2 linked regions of the Homo sapiens genome follow. The protein of the gene in region 2 interacts with the protein of the main gene of each other region in a biochemical or structural test. Each region holds a gene or a part of one and is shown on either strand. Other genes may lie near its edges.

Region 1 (3,530 bases), on a different chromosome or scaffold from region 2:
AGTCAAGTTGTATTTCCTTAAGTTAAGAAGGTCCTAACAGCCTAGTATAGTAACTTTTTTTTTTTTTTTTTTTTTTTTGAGATGGAGTCTTGCTCTGTCTGTCGCCCAGGCTGGAGTGCAGTGGCGTGATCTGGGCTCACTGCAAGCTCTGCCTCCCAGGTTCACACCATTCTCCTGCCTCAGCCTCCCAAGCAGCTGGGACTACAGGTGCCCGCCACCACGCCCGGCTAATTTTTTGTATTTTTAGTGGAGACGGGGTTTCAACGTGTTAGCCAGGATGGTCTCAATCTCCTGACCTCGTGATCTGCCCCCTCCTTGGCCTCCCAAAGTGCCAGGATTACAGGCGTGAGCCACCACGCCTGGCCAGTAACTTCTTAAAAGAGGTATAAAGTCTGAGATTCTAAGTGGGAAATCTGTGGCACTAAACCTTATCAAATGAGGGAGGCCTTAGGAGTAATTAATAAATTACTAGAACCTTTTTAAGTTTTTTTTTTTTTTGGTGTGGGGGGGTGGCGGGGAAGAGACCAGTCACCGACTGAATTCATCCAACAAGAAGCCATAACTTTATTTATGATAGAAACAGTACAAATTTCAAACCAAGCTGCAGTTACTCCTTTGAGACACCAAAAAAAGTTGCTTCCATATGGTTACATTGTTAATTCCTGTAACAGAGAAAAGATAATTAGCGGTTCTTATAGGCAAATCAGGAGAATTCAGGTCACTAAAACTCTTACAGGCAAATCAGGAGAATTTAGGCCACTAAAACCTATACGGCAACTCAGAAGAGGCTCTGGAATGAGGTTCCTTAATTGGCTGATATTTAGCAAGACAAAATAAAGTCACTCATAATTGGTCAGGGCAGAGGGAGTCAAGGAACAAAGGCTTGAACACTTACCATAATCGCATTTACAATATCATTACTGTTGTTCTTCAGGGCTCGGACTGCCTTTGCTCTCGACACATTTGCTTGTGACATGACCAATTCAATGTCCTTAACTTCTACACCTGTTTCATCGACCTGAGAGATGAGAGGGAAAAAGCAGTAAATTAAAGGCAAGAACAATTTCAGCAGTTCTTTGGAGTCTCCTGAATCTAGTTTTTAATATAGCTCACCAACACGAACACAATGCTATACGGCGAGAGTTAAATTATGAAAGATTTCCTAGTATACCTCTTCCTCTTCACTCTCCTCTTGTACAGTTGGAGTCTGTGTGTTTTCTTGAATGTTTGAGACAGCTTCACCTTGAACTTTGAATTTCTCAGCAGCTGCTAGTTGTGCTTGCTGGGATAAATCTTCGATCTACAGGGTAGAAAATACAGATCCATGTGAGTAGATTAGCAGTCTTTGAAAAATAAATCATATAGTTTCACAACTCTCTGTAAACCCATTCAGGTAACTTATTGTACAGCTTTAAACTGCTTGCCCTCACAGTAGAAAGAGTAGTTGTTTAGGTTTAGAGCAGTGGTTCTCAACTAGGGGGTAGTTAGGTCTCCCAGGAGATATATGGCAATGGAGTTTTTGGGTAATCAAAACTGGATGTAATGGATAGCCCTTCCATAACAGAGAACTATCTGACGCAAAATGTCAGCAGTGCTGAGGTTGAGAAACCCTGGTCTGGAACAATGCCCAAGAAAAGTTTACTCACCTTGGCTTCCCCAAAAACTATGTAAGTATCTGAAGCAGGGCTCTTGTAGACATCTGGTTTTGTGATGACAAAGAGGATATTCTTAGATTTCCGGATAGTGACTCTAGTAACTCCTGTAACCTGCCGAAGACCCAGTTTGGACATAGCCTAAAGAAGAGAAAATAGTATCAGGTTTTCAACCTCTTTAGAAGCAGCCTAAAGAAGCAAGGAACATAATACAACATCCAAAGCAAAGCCTTTCCCCAGGCTGAGAAAAGTTCATACAAGAATAGAGAATGGGTTTTCTGCCGTAGTAACTTCTGTTACTTTATTTTTTATTTTTTGGAGGCAGGTCTTGCTCTGTCGCCCAGGCTGGAGTGCAGTGGTGCAATCTCGGCTCAATGTAATGTCCGTCTCCCAGGTTCAAGCAATTGCCGTGCCTCAGCCACCTTAGTAGCTGGGATTACAGGAGCGTTACCACCATGCCCTGCTATATATTTTTGGTATTTTTAGTAGAGATGGGGTTTCGCCATGTTGGCCAGGCTGGTCTTGAACTCCTGACCTCAAGTGATCCATCTGCCTTGGCCTTCCAGTGTGCTGGGATAACAGGTGTGAGCCACCAACCTAGCTACTTCTGTTACTTTCAACGGGATTCTACCACTACTAAGAATTGGGTTCAGTGTATACTGCTTGGGTGACAGGTGCACCAAAATCTCAAAAATCACCACTAGAGAACTTACTTGTATAACCAAAATACCACCTGTTCCCCAAAAACCTATGGAAATAAACAGTTCCACTCTGTATAAAGGTGCTTCATAAGATCCTGAAATCCTTTTCAAATCTTACCTTCCGTGCCTTCTTTTCACTCCGACTCTGTTTTGCTTTACTGACTGGTTCTTCATCAATTTCAGCTGCTGCCGCCAGCTAAGAAGATAAAACAGCTATTAGTTAACCAGAATCTAAGATCTGGATAGCACAATCTCCTTGTGGGTTTTCCTTTATGAAGGTTCACAGTTCCAAATACAAAAGTTGCCCTGATCAACCCTGCTTCTTTGACCCAATACCAGTTAGTAAGAGAATACCCACCTGGGCTTGTTGTGTGGTTGCCTGGGTGGAATCCTGTTCTTCAAGCTCTGGTACTGATTCATCACTGTCAGATTCTGTTCCAGACCCTAAGATGAGAAACAACTTTTACTGCTTTATAGTAGAAATTATAAGAGAAGGTACTTCACCACAGCCTGCCCTGGACTAGAGGTGAATGCCTCATGCTAGACCTAAGAATGTTAAATGTAAACCAACTGGCTTGTGTGAAGTCAGCTTGATAGCCCCTAACTTAGTCACTAACTAGCGGGTACACATCTAGTAAAGACCCAGCCCTAACCCCAGAAATGAGGACTAATCACTAGAAATAGCTGAGCAGTTTAATATACTGTAACTGCTTTCTTTCCCTCAAGGTCTTTGTTTCTTGGCACAGGCAAATAATGACCCATATGACTCTAAAATTTTACCCAATAGTCCAATTATCCCTGTAAAGTTCTGTCAGAAGGTGCCCCCAGATACACTTAAGTGAAAAAACCAAAATCACACCGTGGAGGCACAACAGGTTGGGTGGTTTTCCCCTCAACTTTTAAACTGGGTTGGAGGAAGTCAAAAGCAGACACGTACACATATTCAGCCTCATTTTCAAACCATTCACCCCAGCAATGTGATCTAATCAATATAATTAGAAGATTCTCAATGATGATGACCTATATCTCTAGTTTTTCCAAACATAATTCACATAAATTTCTTTCAATTCAAAGGCCAAGCATCAGTAAAGACTACTGAGGAAAAAAAGCATACACCTGCACCATTTTCAGGCTAGGAAAAACAGATTTCTACATTTTTATGAAAAGGGAGTCCCTG
Region 2 (2,956 bases):
AGAATGGATCGGACAGAAGAGAGACTGGAGGTAGAGAGACGGTTTAGTAGGTTATTAGGAAAATCTGGGAGAGGATGATGGCAGTAGAGACACAGAGAGGTGCATGAATCTGAGAAATGCTCAGGAGGCAGTAGCAATAGGACTTGAAGATTTACTGGGTGCCAGAGATTTTAAAGGATAGGGAAGAGCTAAGGATGAGTATCGAGTAGCTGGTTTGGGAATGAAGGGTATGATGGTGACTTTCACTGAGCTGGGGACACTGGAGAAGGAGCTCTAGTCATCCGGTAGAGGAGAGATGATGAGTATACTTCTGGCTATCCTGTGATTGAGGTGCCGGGAGAGTATCCAAGGAAAGACGGTAAGTAGGTGGCTGGATATCCAAATCTGTGTCTTAGGACAAAGATGGGACTGAAACTATTTGAGGATCATCAGCAAGAGAAATGAATCTGATCACCTATGTTGAGTGTGCAGAGTGAAAAGAACACAAGGCCTTGGAAAGACCCCTGAGATGCACTAATATTTAAGAACTGGGTAGAAGAAAAGATGACCACAAAGGAAACTGAAGAATAAGCCAGGGAAGAAGGTAGATCCGGAGAGTACGGCACTTGGAGACCAAAAAAAGAGAGCATTTCTTTTCTTTTCTTTTTCCAGCAAGAAGTCATAACTTTATTTATGATAGAAACAGTACAAATTTCAAACCAAGCTGCAGTTACTCCTTTGAGACACCAAAAAAAGTTGCTTTCAGATGGTTACACTGTTAATTCCATAATCGCATTTACAATATCATTACTGTTGTTCTTCAGAGCTCGGACTGCCTTTGCTCTCGACACATTTGCTTGTGACATGACCAATTTCACGTCTTTAACTTCTACACCTGTTTCATCGACCTCTTCCTCTTCACTCTCCTCTTGTACAGTTGGAGTCTGTGTGTTTTCTTGAATGTTTCCGACAGCTTCACCTTGAACTCTGAATTTCTCCGCAGCTGCTAGTTGTGCTTGCTGAGATAAATCTTGGATCTTGGCTTCCCCAAAAACTATGTAGGCATCCGAAGCAGGGCTCTTGTAGACGTCCAGTTTTGTGATGACAAAGAGGATATTCTTAGATTTCCAGATAGTGACTCTAGTAACTCCTGTAACCTGTAGAAGACCCAGTTTGGACATAGCCTTCCGTGCCCTCTTTTCACTCCGACTCTGTTTTGCTTTACCGACTGGTTCTTCATCAATTTCAGCTGCTGCCACCAGCCAGGCTTTTTGTGTGGTGGTCTGGGTGGAATCCTGTTCTTCAATCCCTGGTACTGATTCACCACTATCAGATGCTGTTCCAGACCCTGTCTCAGCCTGGGACTGCGGCAACTCCTGCTCTGTAGCAGGGACGGTTTCTGTGGCTTCGCCCGGCATTTTGTGCAGGGAACGCGGAAGCAAGATGGCGGCAGAAAGAGCGCGAGCGAGAGCGTGACCCACGCTTGTTGCAGCGGGAAGCAAAAAGAGAGCATTTAAAAAGACATTTGTCAGCAGTGCTACACTGCCATGAGGTCAAGTTGGAATGGAAAAGGATCTATTGGATTTAGAGACTGTAAGTTACGCGGTCTGAGTGGTGCGGTGTGAGTGGCACTTGGGAATTGGTTAATGGTCAGTTCCTTGAAAAAATGACTAAATTGGGGAATCATTTTTTAAAATTTACATTATTTAACATGCTGTTTTAACTGAAAACATATCACTGTACTTTTATTTGCCAATCTTTTGATAGGAGCCGTAAACCTTTCTTTGAGTATTATCTGTTTATTGGAATTCAGCCTCGGTTTTCTCACATAAATCATATCTATAAAGGTATTGTCTATCATTCCCTGTTTTAGTTTATTTAAAATAGACCAAGAACTCAAAGGTGCTCATGAAGCAATCTGAACGCAGAATCCTAGATATGTATGGTTTCCCTCGATCTTTTCTTGCTCCCCCAATGAATGGAAAATTGTAAATGTTTCCAAACCATTCAATTTAATTTGCACAGAAACAACTATTTTATTTTTTCTATTTATATTTCATATAACAGTTATATAATGAGTTTACGTAATAATCAGTTAAATTACATAATTATAGTAATAAGAATACCCAGCATAAATAGGTTAAATAAACACAACTGATTCTTGGTAAGCCTATAACTGTATAGAGAAAACAAAAAATCCATAGAAAAGAAAACCAAAAAACAAAAATCCGCGTATGTACTAGGCAGTAGCACGTTAGCTATAGAGTGTGCCGTTGGCTTCCACCAATATGTTTCACGAAGGCAACAGAGAGTATCAGTCAATTTGCATTATGTTGGCTAAATATACGTTAAGAGAGTTTTTGCTTTAGTTACAGGGGATGACTCAGAAGGCAGTTAGATTGCAGTGGGCTGAGAAGTAGGAATTGAAGAAATGGAAAGATTGGATTAGATCAGAGTACTCTTATAAGAAGTTTAACTGTGCGGGAGGAGACAGTGCAGTAGCTGAAGACATAATTATAGTTGGCGGATAGGTAAACACATATTCTTCCTAAGAAGAGACCTGAGCATGTTTAAATTCTAAAAGGAGTAGTTAAATACAAATGAAAGAGGGAAGTTGATCAGTCAAGGTTCTGAGGAGCCAGGAATGAAATCCATGGCACAAGTAGAACGACTAATCTTGAATAGCAGGAAAGGCATCCTTTTCATTGTAATAGGAGGAAAGAAGAAAAATATGGATTTGGGTGCAAGCAGATTTTTAGGTTTGGTAGCACGATGTCAAAGGAGTTCCCATCTGGTAACATTTATTTTTTTTTTTTTCTAAGAGGCTAGAGGAGCTGTCTGCTGAGAGTGAGGGGAAGGCAAGAGAGTTAAAGGTTTATGTATGATGGAAAAGATTTGGAATAGGTGCTGCATAGAAGGAAGAAAATGATCACTAAAGAAGCACAATAGGGTAGTAATTCAGTATTGAGGTCCTAGC

Evidence for each region. The genes of interacting proteins can lie anywhere in the genome.
Region 1: the proteins of NACA2 (region 2) and NACA are reported together in a solved structure, tested with the Homo sapiens proteins (one study listed by BioGRID).

What each region holds. Positions count from the first base shown.
Region 1 is NC_000012.12:56,711,891-56,715,420, forward strand, and holds the end of NACA (nascent polypeptide-associated complex subunit alpha), read right to left. Parts: intron 2,798-3,530; coding exon 2,712-2,797; intron 2,550-2,711; coding exon 2,472-2,549; intron 1,794-2,471; coding exon 1,647-1,793; intron 1,301-1,646; coding exon 1,172-1,300; intron 1,019-1,171; coding exon 896-1,018; coding exon of another isoform or gene 869-895; exon of another isoform or gene 663-868; coding exon 648-662; 3' UTR 537-647; downstream 1-536. UniProt on the Homo sapiens protein: Cardiac- and muscle-specific transcription factor. May act to regulate the expression of genes involved in the development of myotubes.
Region 2 is NC_000017.11:61,589,784-61,592,739, forward strand, and holds NACA2 (nascent polypeptide-associated complex subunit alpha-2), read right to left. Parts: upstream 1,437-2,956; 5' UTR 1,398-1,436; coding exon 750-1,397; 3' UTR 638-749; downstream 1-637. UniProt on the Homo sapiens protein: Prevents inappropriate targeting of non-secretory polypeptides to the endoplasmic reticulum (ER).